2 linked regions of the Homo sapiens genome follow. The protein of the gene in region 2 binds, or shares a complex with, the protein of the main gene of each other region. Each region holds a gene or a part of one and is shown on either strand. Other genes may lie near its edges.

What was found. Proteins that work in one complex are often made in the same cells at the same time.
Region 1: the proteins of BRD1 (region 2) and KAT7 are in contact, whole or in part, in a crystal structure (PDB 5GK9), measured with the Homo sapiens proteins. Residues at the interface, in XP_047297239.1 of Homo sapiens: Val40, Ile42, Glu43, Ile44, His49, Arg50, Ile51, Ser52, Ile53, Phe54, Asp55, Pro56, Leu57, Glu58, Ile59, Ile60, Leu61; in NP_008998.1 of Homo sapiens: Leu531, Phe534, Gly536, Lys537, Glu538, Ile539, Ser540, Ile541, Lys542, Pro552, Val553, Val556, Gln560, Leu565, Tyr567, Lys571, His572, Leu573, Val574, Leu575, Lys576.

What each region holds. Positions count from the first base shown.
Region 1 is NC_000017.11:49,791,681-49,798,680, forward strand, and holds part of KAT7 (histone acetyltransferase KAT7), read left to right. Parts: intron 1-205; coding exon 206-353; intron 354-5,069; coding exon 5,070-5,246; intron 5,247-6,638; coding exon 6,639-6,878; intron 6,879-7,000. UniProt on the Homo sapiens protein: Catalytic subunit of histone acetyltransferase HBO1 complexes, which specifically mediate acetylation of histone H3 at 'Lys-14' (H3K14ac), thereby regulating various processes, such as gene transcription, protein ubiquitination, immune regulation, stem cell pluripotent and self-renewal maintenance and embryonic development.
Region 2 is NC_000022.11:49,824,851-49,832,588, reverse strand, and holds the start of BRD1 (bromodomain-containing protein 1), read left to right. Parts: upstream 1-4,715; 5' UTR 4,716-5,092; intron 5,093-5,331; exon of another isoform or gene 5,332-5,351; intron 5,352-6,003; exon of another isoform or gene 6,004-7,738. UniProt on the Homo sapiens protein: Scaffold subunit of various histone acetyltransferase (HAT) complexes, such as the MOZ/MORF and HBO1 complexes, that acts as a regulator of hematopoiesis.

The sequences.
Region 1 (7,000 bases), on a different chromosome or scaffold from region 2:
TTCCCTATTTGTAGGTTGTTCCATTTAAGTGTTCTAAATAAAGTGAAGTTGCCTGAGGGGGTGGGAGGATGAGAAATGCTTGTGGAATCCTTATTTAGGTTTGAACTTGGGGTTTTCAGTGTCACAGCTTGTTTTATTTTCAATGTTAATGCAAACTCTCAGACCAAATGCTTCTGTGCTAATATCTGGATCTATGGTATTACAGAGGAATGCAGGCAGTAGTTCAGATGGAACCGAAGATTCCGATTTTTCTACAGATCTCGAGCACACAGACAGTTCAGAAAGTGATGGCACATCCCGACGATCTGCTCGAGTCACCCGCTCCTCAGCCAGGCTAAGCCAGAGTTCTCAAGGTAAAAAAACCTTCATTTTTCCTTACCACTCCTCACATCTGGCTGACTGGCCCATCACATTATTTTCCTAGTTAATGTGGAAACTGGCCCCTTGGCTTGGTGTAGATGACAGTGCACCAGATGATTGGTAAAATGTAGAGTGAATGCAGAGTTGTCAGGTCTTTAACAATGCCTCTGTGGGGGGCTACTATCCAATCTGTAGACCCAAAGGAACTGCGGATGGTATAATGGATAGAGACACACGTATGTCTTGAGTCATTTGTTTGTTTGTTTGTTTGTTTTTTTAGATCGCAGTGTCTCCATCAGTAAAATTGGAATGTTATCCCTTCACTTTCTGTTTGAATGTTTGAGGCTTAGGGACTTGAAGTCCAGATGGTATCTGATTTATGGTGGCTTGATTTAATTTTTTTTTTTAACTTTACAGTGGTGCTAAAACAATATGCATTCAGTGGAAACTTTTAGAATTTTGAATTTCGGTCTTTTCCTGGGCCAGTGATATGTGGGCCAAATATTTTCTCATGTTGCTGAGTGGTGGCAATGAGCCATAATAACTCCAGTCAGTGAGCCGTAACTCCCAGTCAGCCATTTGATCATGAGGGTAAACCAGTACTCTTCAGTGTACTGTCTTTAATAAATTATATGCAATATTCAACACTTTATTAAAAATAGGCTTTGTGTTAGATGATTGTGCACAATTGTAGGCTAATGTAAGTGGTTTGAGCCTATTTAAAGTAGGCTAGGCTAAGCTATGATGCTCGGTAGGTTAGGTGTATAGCGGTTTTTTTTATTTTCTGGAGACAGGGTCTTGTGCTCTGTTGCACAGGTTGGAGTGCAGTGGTGTGATCTTGGCTCACTGCAGCCTTGACCTCCTTGGCTCAAGTGATCCTCCCACCTCAGCCTCCTGAGTAGCTGGGACTACAGGTGCACGCCACCATGCCTAGCTAGTTTTCTTTGTTTTTTGTAGAGATGAGGTCTTATTATGTTGTCTAGGCTGGTCTCAAACTCCTGGACTCAAGCAGTCCTTCCACCTTGGCCTCCCAAAGTACTGGGGTTATAGATGTGAGCCACCATGTTCAGCCTGTAAATGCATTTTTAACTTATAATACTTTCAACTTATGATAGTTTTATTGAGACTTAACCCCATTACAAGTCAAGGAGCATCTGTAGTCTCTTGGACTTACTCTTGGCAGAGGCCCACTTCTAAAACCATGTTTAACTCTGGAATGTAATCCAATAAACACTTGATAGATATTAATAGTTGTACCAAAATATCAGTGTGGAAATAATGGAATTTTGCTTTGGTAATAAGGAATTGAGAATCTTGGGGTTGGAAGGTAGTTTGAACTATCTCTAGTGCATTTAGGCATCTGGGGTTAGATTTGGAGGGTACCCTTGACCCTCCTGGCTCTGCTCTGGTATTCCCTGAGGAGGAAAGAAGGTTGCAGCTAATACAGAAAGCCGATGATCAACAGGTGATAATAGATGAAGGGAAAAAAACTTTAACATGTTTTGAGCACTTCAACAGTGTTGCTTTGGTTAATTTTTTTTTTTTTTTTTTTTGAGATGGAGTCTAGCTCTGTTGCCAGGCGGAGTGCAGTGGCATGATCTTGGTTCACTGCAACTTCCGCCTCCTGGGTTCAAGCAATTCTCCTGCCTCAGCCTGCAAGTAGCTGGGACTACAGGTGCACGCCACCGTGCCCAGCTAATTTTTGTATTTTTAGTAGAGATGGGGTTTCACCATGTTGGCCAGGATAGTCTCAATCTCTTGACCTCATGGTCTGCCTGCCTTGGCCTCCCAAAGTGCTTGGATTATAGGCATGAGCCACCGCGCCCTGCTGCTTTGGTCACTTTTATATGAGTATGTTGCACAATGAGAGAAAAACCATCAGTTTTTCAAGCAAGAAAGTGGGAATATCCTCTTTAACAACTGTTCCTAACTTTATTTTTGAATTTAGGATTTCAGCTAAAGTATTGCTATTGTCTCTTGATTTCTTAAGCTTTAAATTTTTACCACAATGAGACTATGGATAAATAGCTACTATAACTCAAGCAGTATGTTATGTACTAGGAACCATGATAGAAAAATCATAGTTCCTGTCCTCAAAGATCTTACAGTTCAGTGCAAGATACAGATATGAAAATTGATCATGGGAATACATTATGGCAAGGGCTGTGAGAGGGGTTTGCATAGAGTACTACATAAGCCCAGAGGTGGGACAGCCAACTTAGGGCAGCACTCCCACAATGATGAAGTCTTTTTTGTTGTTGTTGAGACAGAATCTCGCTCTGTCGCCCAGGCTGGAGTGCAGTGGCATGATCTTGGTTCACTGCAGCTTCCGCCTCCTGGGTTCAAGGAATTCTCCTGCCCCAGCCTCCCAAGTAGCTGGGATTACAGGCGAGCACCACCATACCTGGCTATTTTTTGTATTTTTAGTAGAGACAGGGTTTCACCGTGTTGTCCAGGCTTGTCTTAAACTCCTGATCTCAAGTGATCTGCCCGCCTCGGCCTCCCAAAGTGCTGGGATTACAGGCGTGAGCCGCCGTGCCCAGCTGCACACTGAGATGTCTTAAAGGCTCTGATAGGAATTTACAAGTTGAAAGATGGGAATATGTTATTCTCGGCAGATGGAACAGCATATGCTAAGGAAAAGACATAATGTTTGTAGGAAGTATAATTGACCATGCCCTAGACACCTGAAAACTAAATATTCAAAACAGCTAGGAAATGCGTAAGCACTGAGTCTCTTTCTGGTTATCATACCTCATGACCACAGAGTTGCACAACTCCAGGGGTACCATTTACAATGTCAGCAATGTAAGGTGGTCCTCCCTAGAGCACAAGGTAGATCATATTGTGAAAGGAGGCCCCTTGGAGATGTACAAATGGATAACCTTGCTCTGTGCTAACTTTTCTCACCCGAAAGTTTGGAAATTTTCAGTTTTCTTCTTTAGAGAATCTATAAGATTTCTTCAGATTTTTTTTTTTTTTAAATATACGTTGGGGGGTGCAGCCGTGAGAGAGTGAGGCTGACACCGCGCCCTGGCCTGTGCATCCCGCCCTCTGAAAAAAAAATTAATTAATTAAAATAAAATATACTTTAGAGAGGATTTTGACTGTTCTCACCACAAAGAAATGACAAGTGTTTGAGATATGGATATGCTAATTATTTTGATTTCATCATTACACAATGTATACGTCTATCAGAACATCACAGTATACTCTATAAATATGTACACTTACATGTCAATTAAAACAAAACTAAGACTGCTAGGGGCTTACACGGAGGGAATTGAGCCAGCATCACCACGATGGTGTTGTTGGAGAGTGAGCAGTTCCTGACGGAGCTGACCAGACTTTTCCAGAAGTGCTGGACATCGGGCAGCATCTATATCACCTTGAAGAAGTATGGTGGTGGAACCAAACCCGTTCCAAAGAAAGGTTCTGTGGAGGGCTTTGAGCCCTCAGACAAGTGTCTGTTAAGAGCTATCGATGGGAAAAAGAAGGTCAGCACTGTGGTGAGCTCCAACCAAGTGAATAAGTTTCAGATGGCTTATTCAAACCTACCGAGTGCTAACATGGATGGGCTGAAGAAAAGGGACAAAAAGAACAAAAGTAAGAAGACCAAAGCAGCAGCACAGTAAAGGGCACAAATTTCCTGCTTTCACCAATTAACCACTGAATTGTTATTTTTTCCTTTGGTTTTTACTTTTGGCCACATAGCTAGGTTTCTGGTTCCCCTACACTAGGTGTTTTCACATAAGATGTAGGGTCCTTTTGCAAAGAATAGTTGCAATGTTTATAGGGCAGTTGTGGTAAGAATCTAGTTTATTTTACATTTGGCTAATTGGTCTGTACTGCATGGTTATATACTCCTGGATTATAGATTAAAAGTCTCTGTAGTCATCTCTGTGAAGAGCAAGCTATGATTAAACATGTCTCTTTATAAAAAAAAAAGCACAAAAAAACTAAAACATATCTACATATATTTTTTAAAAATGCTTTAATTTCAGCTTTGAATTTTCCTTCATTTCCTTTGTCCTCAGGTTGGAGATATAAAAGGGCTGCTGAGTGCCTCAGAATAGGTTTTTCTATCCAAAAAACTTAAAATGCTGCATTCCTGCTTTACCTTTATGAATCTATTATGACAGTGCCAGAGAGGGTAATAAGAAAGAAAAAAAAATCGGCCCCTTAAGAAAGGAAATCGTTTTGTTTGTTGTTATATCTTTGGTAATAGAATATCTGTTTTATGGTGGGTTAGAAAAAGGGAAGAATGAGAGGATGCAGTTAATATTTATAAAGCACTCTGTACCACGGATCATGTTAAGTGCTTCACATGCATTATCTCACCTATTCCTCACCACAGTGTTATGAGGAATGTGCTACTAGTATTTTCCTTTTCAATAGGTCAGGAAACAGGCTTGGAGAAAATAACTTGCCCAAGATGCCACAGCTAGTTGGTATGGTGGAGTGGAGTTGAATCAAGTTCAGTCCTAATTCCAGAACCTAAACTTATTAATGCTGTACTACATTACATCTGTATACCTGAGCTAGGCTCTTTTGCTTATATTTTATTTAATTAAATAGATATTTTAAGGATTTGTTGGATTTTGTGAAATATGAAGAGGAGGAGGAGCGATATTCTGATAAATTATATGGATAGGAAGTAAAACAGATTTCCATCTTTTTTCTTTATTTTCTTTTAAAATTGGGATCAGATTCCAGTCCTGTTCGAAATCTGCAGTCTTTTGGCACTGAGGAGCCTGCTTACTCTACCAGAAGAGTGACCCGTAGTCAGCAGCAGCCTACCCCAGTGACACCGAAAAAATACCCTCTTCGGCAGACTCGTTCATCTGGTTCAGAAACTGAGCAAGTGGTTGATTTTTCAGATAGAGGTGAGTGGGTATGGTATGACTTAGACCTATTACAGAGCATCTGGGTGAAATTCTTTTTAAGGAGGGCTTGGGGCCACTGCAGGTAGATGCCTAATACTTCAGCTAGATGAATGCTGTTTGCTTGCTTCCTTTCTTATGTCTTTTTTTTTTTTTTTGAGACGGAGTCTCGCTCTATTGCCCAGGCTGGAGTGCAGTGGTGCAATCTTGGCTCACTGCAAGCTCTGCCTCCCGGGTTCACGCCATTCTCCTGCCTCAGCCTCCTGAGTAGCTGGGACTACAGGCGCCTGCCACCACGCCAGGCTAATTTTTTGTATTTTTAGTAGAGACGGGGTTTCACTGTGTTAGTCAGGATGGTCTCGATCTCCTGACCTCGTGATCCACCCGCCTCAGCCTCCCAAAGTGCTGGGATTACAGGTATAAGCCACCATGCCCAGCCTCCTTTCTTATACATTGCTGAGGACAGTTTGATATCAGAATATTCTCAAGGTCCAGAGTAGCTGGAGTATATTAAATCGTACCTGTAATAGGAAAAAGAGACTGGGCCCTTCTTAACCACATTTGAAAAGGGCTTGAAGCAGACTTTTCTTATAGCCATACTTCTCAGTCCATTTATCTCCAAATTTCTTAATGCAGAGGTCACAGACTGGTGAACTACTTCTAGCTGTCCGCATGGTTGGTTGGTTTGCTTGCACAGTGTTTAAAATTTTTTAAATTTGTTGCTAGTATTTGAAAACACAATGATTTCATATAAAAACCTGGATTAATAGTTTATTTTAAACAATGAAAAGATCTGGGAACACTGGGCGGCCAATCACCCATAGTAATAATTGGCTGGAGTTGAATAGTAGTTGTCCCCTTTAGATGGACAATGAGCTGTCTCTTTGGCCTTGCTGAGCCCCTGTAGGCATTTGGTTTGCAATTCCTGATTTAGAGTCTGGAATTTCAAGATTGAATTGTTAGACTACAAACAGGCTCACTCAAGACTCTAAGTCCATTCACATCTTACACCAAGCCTGTTCAGTGTCATCCAGAAAGATAATCACTGTCACTTATCTTCTGTCCTGTGTATCTCCTGGAAGGGAAGTGGGATAGTAATGTTTTAAAAACGTATTTCCATCTAGTTTTGATTATCCATGATTAGCAACTCAGGAGAAATACAGATAGGTGTAATAGATGAAGTACAAATTTAATTTTAATCAGAATTTAAAGTTGCACAAAATGGATGGTGTAGAAGTGCCTCTTCATTTTCCATTTAGCCATCTAGCAGATGAATAGCTGAAAGTTACTGGTTAAATCATAGAAAAAGAACCTGGGAAGCCCATAAACTCTGAATAGTAAACTTCTAAATAAATGAACTCCACTCATAACTTCTACCAATTGCTTTTGCTTTAGAAACTAAAAATACAGCTGATCATGATGAGTCACCGCCTCGAACTCCAACTGGAAATGCGCCTTCTTCTGAGTCTGACATAGACATCTCCAGCCCCAATGTATCTCACGATGAGAGCATTGCCAAGGACATGTCCCTGAAGGACTCAGGCAGTGATCTCTCTCATCGCCCCAAGCGCCGTCGCTTCCATGAAAGCTACAACTTCAATATGAAGTGTCCTACACCAGGCTGTAACTCTCTAGGTCAGTGTGCCCTAGCTTCATGACATCCTTTGTTCTGTGGTTCTCTCTCCCAGGATCATCCAGAAATGTTTTGTGTTCTGTTGGGATTTAGCTTCTTAGGCTCTTCAGTGGTCATGTGCTGA
Region 2 (7,738 bases):
TTCATTTCTGTTGCTGTGTGCTATTCCATTGCGTGGATACACCTCACTTTGTCCATTTTACCGTCCTTTGATATTTAAGATTTCTCCCAGTATTTGCTATTAAAAACAGCGTTAAAATAAAAAAAAAAAAACACCAAAAACAGTGTTGCTCTGAACATTCATGCACATGCTTCCTGATGAACAAGTTTCTTTTTTTCTTTTCTTTTTTTTTTTTTTTTTTTAGATGGAGTCTTGCTCTGTTGCCCAGGCTGGAGTGCAGTGGCGCAATCTCTGCTCACTGCAAACTCTGCCTCCTGGGTTCACACCATTCTCCTGCCTCAGCCTCCTGGCTAATTTTTTGTATTTTTAGTAGAGATGGGGTTTCACCGTGTTAGCCAGGATGGTCTCAATCTCCTGACCTCATGATCTGCCTGCCTCAGCCTCCCAAACTGCTGGGATTACAGGCGTGAGCCACGGCGCCCGGCCCTGATGAACAGGTTTCTTAGGCACACACCCAGGCACGGAATGCACCTAGGAATACAAATTGACTTAACCCTACAGCCGGGAATGGGTATGCACACTGGGGGAGCTTGCATCTTCTCAAAGTGGCCACAACAACTTCTCCCATACAGCATGCTTCTCTTAAAATGTGATGATAACACATGTCCCAAGAGGTGGGGTCTGTATTCTCCCTAACTCTTGAATCTGGACAGGCTTGTCCCTATGGCAGAAGTGATGCGTGTGACTTCAGAAGCTAGGATGTGAAAAGTGATACAGGTCCCACCTGCTTCTCTTGAGACCCTTGCTCCTGCAGCATGGCTACTATTCCATGAGGATGTTCCCAAGGCCCTCAGCCCAGAGCCTGGATCAAGGTCCCAGCCACGTGAGTGCACCATCTTGGAAGTGGCTCCTCCAGCCCCTAGTGGAGGTGCCCCAGATAAGGATGCAGGAAGTAGTCTAGTTGTACCTGCTGAATCCTGCCCAAATAGCAGATGTGTGAACAAAAGGAATGACTGCTGTTTTGAGCTACAAAGTTTTGGGGGTGGTTTGTTTTGCAGCAAGAGGTAACTGATAAACATGTCCACTTTCACTGGGTAACGCCTTATGACCAAGATATTTACCAAATAATTGTCCCACTCGACATTCTGGCCAGCAGGGTATTGCTCTGCCATCTTGCCATCGCTGAGTATTGCCACATATGAACGCTGGTGCCTATTTGGTGTGTATTTTGTTTGCATTTCCAAATTTACTAGTAAGATGATTGGCCTTTCCATGTTCTCTGCAAGAAGCCTGATTATGACATGGGTTTCTTTGTTGATTTGGGTTTTGTGCATCATTTTGTTGGCTTGTTTGTCTCTTTCTAATGGATCTGAAGGGGTTCTCTATATATTCTAAATACTAATCATCTGCAAGGTGTACATATCTTTTAGTTTTTCATTCTTCAGTCTCTTTATGGTGCCTTTTGAGGAACAAACATATGATAATTTCCATCCTTTCATTTACGAAATGGAGTCTTGCTCTGTCACTCAGGCTGGAGTGCAGTGGGGCAATCTTGCCTCACTGCAACCTCAGCCTCCTGGGTTCAAGTGATTCTCCTGCCTCAGCCTCCTGAGTAGCTGGGATTACAGGCACGTGCCCCCATGCCTGGCTAATTTTTCTATTTTTAGTAGAGATGGGGTTTCACTATGTTGGTCAGGTCTTGAACTCCTGACCTCAGGTGATGCACCTGCCTCGGTCTCCCAAAGTGTTGGGATTACAGGCATGAGCCACTGTGCCTGGCCCCATCGTTTTATTTTTCATCTGTTATTTTTCAGGTGAATTTCTTGTAAGAATATTTCACCATATTTATATTCCATTCAGAGAGGTTGTCTTTTAATAGATGCATTTAATCCAATCACATTCCTCTGATTACTCAAATGTTTGAACTTAGTTCTGCCAACTCATATTATGTTCTGTATTTATCATGATTTTATCTTTTACTCATTCCTGTTTTTTTTTTGTTGTTGCTGCTGTCGTTTTTCATTTCGCTTTTTCCTCAGCTGTTCTGAAAGTGGTAAATTCTTTTTCCACCATTCTTGTGGAAACTTTCTGATAGTTAAAACTTTTTTTTTTTGTTTTTTTGAGATGGAGTTTTGCTCTTGTTGCCCAGGCTGGAGTGCAATGGCACCATCTCAGCTCACTGTAACCTCCACCTCCCAGTTTCAACCAATTCTCCTGCCTCAGCCTCCCAAGTAGTGGGATTACAGGCATGCGCCGCCACGCCCGGCTAATTTTTTTTTTTTTGTATTTTTAGTAGAGATGGGGTTTCTCCATGTTGATCAGGCTGGTCTTGAACTCCCGACCTCAGGTAGTCTGCCCGCCTCGGCCTCCCAAAGTGCTGGGATTACAGGTGTGAGCCACCATGCCCAGCTAAAATTTTTAACCTTTTTTTCTATCGATTCTAAAATCCTCGAACCAAACAATACAAGAGCTTTCGTGCACTTTCACTTCCTTCTGCGCCCCGCCTTACCATGTGTCATGTTGAGTTCATCCGGGATTTCTCTCAGGTTGATTTTCTTTTAACGGACCAGACTGATTTACTTGCTGGCATCCACGTCTTACTCTTGGGTCCACTTTTCACTTTGTTAAGGTATTTCTTCTAGTACTTTTACAGACTGCGTGTGTGGTAAATGTGGATGTTAACCGGCGGTGAAGACACCTTTATTTTGCTGTCTCACTGGAACGCTAGTTTCACTGTGTATGAGTTACGGTTCAATTCTCTTAGTATTTTGGCAACCCCTCCTCTGTAGGATGAGTCTGAATTCTAAAGAAGATCCTCTCCGAAGGCCTTCCTGAGTATCCCTGTGACATGCCTACGTTCGAGGCTTTGTTCTTCACTCCTCTGAGCATCACCTGCATTGTCTGAGAGGCCACTGTCCCCGTCTCCTCTTCTGTGAAGGGTTTCGTGTCTTTTCATCTTCTCTTTCATGAGACTGTGTCTTACTTTTGCTCTGTGTTGTGGAGAACCTCCAGCTTGGTTTCCATCTGGCTTCCCTGAGGTGGAGGAGAGAAGCGTTCGGGCTCAGCTTGCTTGTTTGGCCACAGGTAAACAGACATCTGTAGAATGGAGGTGACACGAAGCTCCTGGGTCTGGTGCAGAAGAGGTCAGGGCCCCAGTGGCCTGTACCCCCTAAGCTCAAGGGTGTGTCTGCAGGGAGTCCTAGATCAGGACTGACCACTGGGGCCTTGGCTGGGGTCCTACCTGCCCTTGAGTCGTCACGTCACAACCCACACACTGGGTGCCATGGGCATGAGGACTGGCCAGGAAAAGGCCTGTGGGGCCTGGCCCCTATCAGGGACACTTGGGCGAACAAGGCCACCCCACTCCCAATAAGGTGTTTGGTGCAGTGCCCCGAGCAGTGGGGCCGCTCGGCTGCCCCCGTGGGGACGGTCTGTCCCAGGGTGGACAGCTGCTCTTCCTGAGGGGCCTGCCTGGATGCCACAGGCTGTGCTGCTGGAACCCAGGGATTCCACAGCACCATCGTCCTGATCACAAATTCTCAAGGAAACCAAGGAGCTCCTGCCTCACCTTAAAACATTTGGGATTTAATCTTGGAGTGAAAATTGTTATGACCCCACTGAATTTTAGAGTTTACACAAAAGGCCAAAGTGAAGGCAGAGACTCAGGCCTCTCAACTCCCACCCGCAGGGGCCTTTTCTTGCAACCTTAAAGGGCATCTGCTTCACGCCGGCCTCGGCAGGGCCCTCACACTGGCAGGACTACTTGCACACCGGGCCTGACACTCACTAGGGGAGGCTCCCCAGCCCGGCTGCACCACCCACCTCTACCTAGTCGCGTGTCCCGGCCAGTGCCCTTTCCACTCCCACCCAGTGCCCCCGCAGGGCCCCCTCTGTCCTCTTAGGGACCTCCACTCCCGGACCAATAGCCTCCTGCCTCAGGGCCCCCCACTCATGGGCCAATCGCCCCCTGCCTCAGGCCTCCCCCCACTCGTGGGCCAATCGCCCCCTGCCTCAGGCCCCCACCAACTCGTGGGCCAATCGCCCCCTGCCTCAGGGCCCCCCATTCCTGGGCCAATGGCCTTCTGCCTCAGGGACTCCCACTCTCAGCTGGTCCCCCCCGCCTCAGGGACCCCCACTCCTGGCCGTTCCCCCGTCAGGGCCCCCGACTGGCGGCTGCTCCCCCATCCTGCCTCGGGGCCCCCCACTCCCGGGCCAATGTCCTTCTGCCTCAGGTACCCCCACTCCCGGCCCGTCCCCCCGCCTGTGGGCCCCCCACTCCAGGCCGGTGGTAGCCCCTGCCTCAGAGCCGCCCACTCCTGGGCCATCTCCTGCCTCAGCGACCCCACTCCTGGGCCAATGCCCTTCTGCCTCAGGGACCCCCACTCCCAGCCGGTACCCCCCTGCTTCAAAGCCCCCGACTCCCGGCTGCTCCCCACCTGCCTCGGGGCCCCCCACTCCTAGGCCTACGTCCCCCTGCCTCAGGGCCCCTCATTCTCCATCCTCCTGACCCCCTCAGGGACCTTCTGGCCCGGTCCTCCCTAACTCAAGGGCCCCCACTCTCCATCCTCCCGACCCCCCACTCCCAGCCCGGTCCCCGCCGCCTCAGGGCCCCCTTTGGCCCCCGCTCCTCGCGGCGCCCCCTCCCCCGCGCGCGGCCGAGGCAGCGGAGTCCGCGCGTCATGGCGGCGGCGGGCGGGGCGCGTCTCGCACGCAGCGCGCCGGGCGGAGCGCTCGCCGCATTGTTTGCTTCGCTGGGGAGCGAGCGAGCGACCCGGCCCTGGAGTCCGAGCCAGCCCCGCGTCCCGCGCCCGCCGCCCGCCGCCCGCTCCCGCGCCCGCGCCCGCGCCCGCCGGCCGGGCCCCCCGAGCCGGGCCTCCAGCTGGGCCCCGAGCCCGAGCCCGCGCCGCGCGAGCCGCTGCCCGAGAGTCCGCGGCCGCCGCTGCCGGGCCCGGAGCCGCCGCGGCCGAGAGGGGCCCGCGCCCAGGAGCGGCGGCGGGGCCCGGCCTGCGCGGCCGTTGGCGGAGGAGCCGCGGGCGCCATTAGCACCGCCTCGGCCGCGCCGGCCCCCGCGCCCGCCCGCTTGCCGGGCTCCCGCGGCCGCGGCGCCCCGAAGGTGAGTGGGCGGGGGCCTGGCCGGGGAGGCCTCCCCGCCGCCTCGCGGGCCGCCCGGCCGCCGCCGCCGCCTCGGCCCGGCCTCTCGGGGTTGTGGTGCCGACGCCATGTTTGGCGGCGGCGGCGGCGGCGGCGGCTCCGCATTGTCTGCGGGCCGGGAGCCCGGGATGCCGGGGAGGCCGGGCGGGGAGACCGGGGAGGTCGGGCCGGGCGGCCGGGGAGACGGGCGGGAAGACGGGGAGGCCGGGCGGGGAGACCGGGTAGGTCAGGCCGGGGAGTCGAGGGAGGCCGAGTCGGGCTGTGGGTCTCGGCGGCCTGGGCCGCGGGCGCCTGCCCGGAGTCCGCGCTCGAGTCGGGTCGGGCCTCGGGCAGCCGCCGAGCCGGCCGGGCCGCCCCTTATGTAACAGACAGGCCCGCCGAGCTCTGCCAAGACGGGAACTCCCTGTGAGCAGGGACGCGCCCCGAGATCGCCCAGGAGCCGCGCGGCCTGCGGCGGCCGGGCTTGGGAACCGGCACCGCGGCCTCCCCGGGCGTTTGCAGGGAGACGCCTCGCGACGAACGCGAGGCTTCCCCGGGCCTTTTAAAACGAGTGACACGATTGAGGCGCAGTTCACGGGAAACGCGGCTCTTGTGAGCGGACGCGGGAGTTCTGAGAATCCGTAGCAGCGGGACCCCCTGCCCCGCGGGGTGCGGCCCCGTCTCCCCAGAAAGCGCGGCCGCCCGTGTCTGTTTTTGAGGGTCTGTCGCCAGGTGGTTGTGTAGTTAGTGGAATCGGCGGATGTTTTTGTTTGGCCGGCCCAGCGCCGTCCCGAGTGCTGTGTGCTGCACACAACTTCGCACAGCTCAGCGGCCGCGGCCCCTGTGGCCTTGACCGAGAGGCCCGGCGCGTGGCCGGCTTCTCCCTGGGCGGGCGGTGGGAAGATGGAAGCGGCCGTCTTGTGGGCAGCCTTCCCCGCCTGTGGCCCGCAGGGCTCTTCGATGTACTTAAGGGAATTATTCCTTGAGAAGCTACGTGTGTGCCCCCGCGGATCCCTCCCAGTGGAAATGCTTGTCCCAGTGGAAGGGCCAGGGACAGAACCGGCCCAGGGGGGAAGCGGTGAAGCAGAGGAGGTCGTGGGTCGCCCTGCCCTGCTGAGGGCCTACTTTCCCCGGGTCCCAGTTGCATGTTGAGGGTATGGAGCTGCTGTGGCCGTGAAGCCTTCGGTTCAGTTCTCCCCTTGTAGAAAGTGTTGCGATGAAGAGCTTCACGGCTCCCTGGGAGAGAGTGGGTTTCCAGGGGCTGCTTGTCGTTAGGGCGACTCAGGACTTTGCTGTCGAGGGGAAAATGACAGGTTCGTTTCTGATCTGGTGAGTAACCAACTGTTGCTTCTGCCCCACCTCAGTAATGACGCGTGTCGGCGTCCCGGGTGCACTAGGGTCGCTCTCTGCAGGCTGTGGTGTCACCTCTGCAGGGCTCACGGGGCCGGCTGGGGGGTGGCTGTGCTGACAGCTCCCCAGGAATCCAGGGTTGAGTGGGTACCTGGAGGCCCTGGAGATGCAGGGGGTCTGAGGTTTGGCCGACCACATTTTCTCTCCTATTCCTTTCTGTAGGTAATTGCAATCTAGTTTCAACATACAATGAGGATTTCTGTCTGATACAGAGAAAGATACCCAGTGTCTGGAGGGTCTGTCTTAAGAAGTGCTCTTGAAGTCTGCTGGGATTTCCTTTCGGGACTCACAGAGGGAAGCCTGCTCCCTGAGGGCTTTTTCTCAGGCCCAATAGATCAGGGTAAGGCTGCTGTGGGTGCCCCTGATCCCCCTGGGCCCCGAGGCCAGGCGTCCCTGACGTGGCAGGGCTAGATGCAGAGTATGCCTTGGGCTTCAGCTGAGAATATTTGTTTTGCGAGTCAGTCACTGAAAAATCATTTTGCTTCCTGTCAGTGAAGTGTGGCGCTTTGGAGGGAGGCACTGCCCAGCAGGCGGTGGTCTTCACAGGAGGTGTCCACACACCAGGCACCCTGGGGACAGCTAGGAATAGACGCAGTCCGTGGTGTTGGGACAGCAGAGGCCTCTGCCACGAGGAGCTGGAGGTATGGGAGGCAGCTCACTGGTTTTGCCTACCTCTGGAAAAGCAGATTCTCCTAAGCCTCTGTGGCCAAGTCTTCAGGCACCTGAGCCAGCGCTGGCGACCCTCCTGGTGAGGGTCTCTGCAAGCAGCGAGGGGTTCCTGGGGGTCACCCCTCGCTGTGGAGCCTGAGTGGAGCGTCTGCCTTCACGTGTGCCGGGGAGAACAGAGATTCCCTTTGGCGTCATGCATGTGTCTGGATTCTCTCAGAAAGGAGGAGGACGTGGAAGGAGGAGGACGTGGCCAGCACCATGGTCTCAGTGGGGCTTGAGGAGTGCCCCTGAGGGGAAGGGGCAGGTTGGCTCAGCCTGTGGTGGTTTCCATGGTGGTCACTGCCAAGGCTCTGCAGAAGCGGGGTTGGGGCCTCCCAGGGGCCAAGACTGTCCCCTCAGACCAGTACAGGGCTCCCCTGTTGGTCCCCTGTGCCGTGTTGTGCGTGTGGAGGGCCTGTCTATAGAGGATGGACAGGCTGTGATCTGTCTCCTACCCCTGGCCCCAGCAGGAATGCTGCAAGGACTGTGGTGACTCTGGGCTCATGGGAGT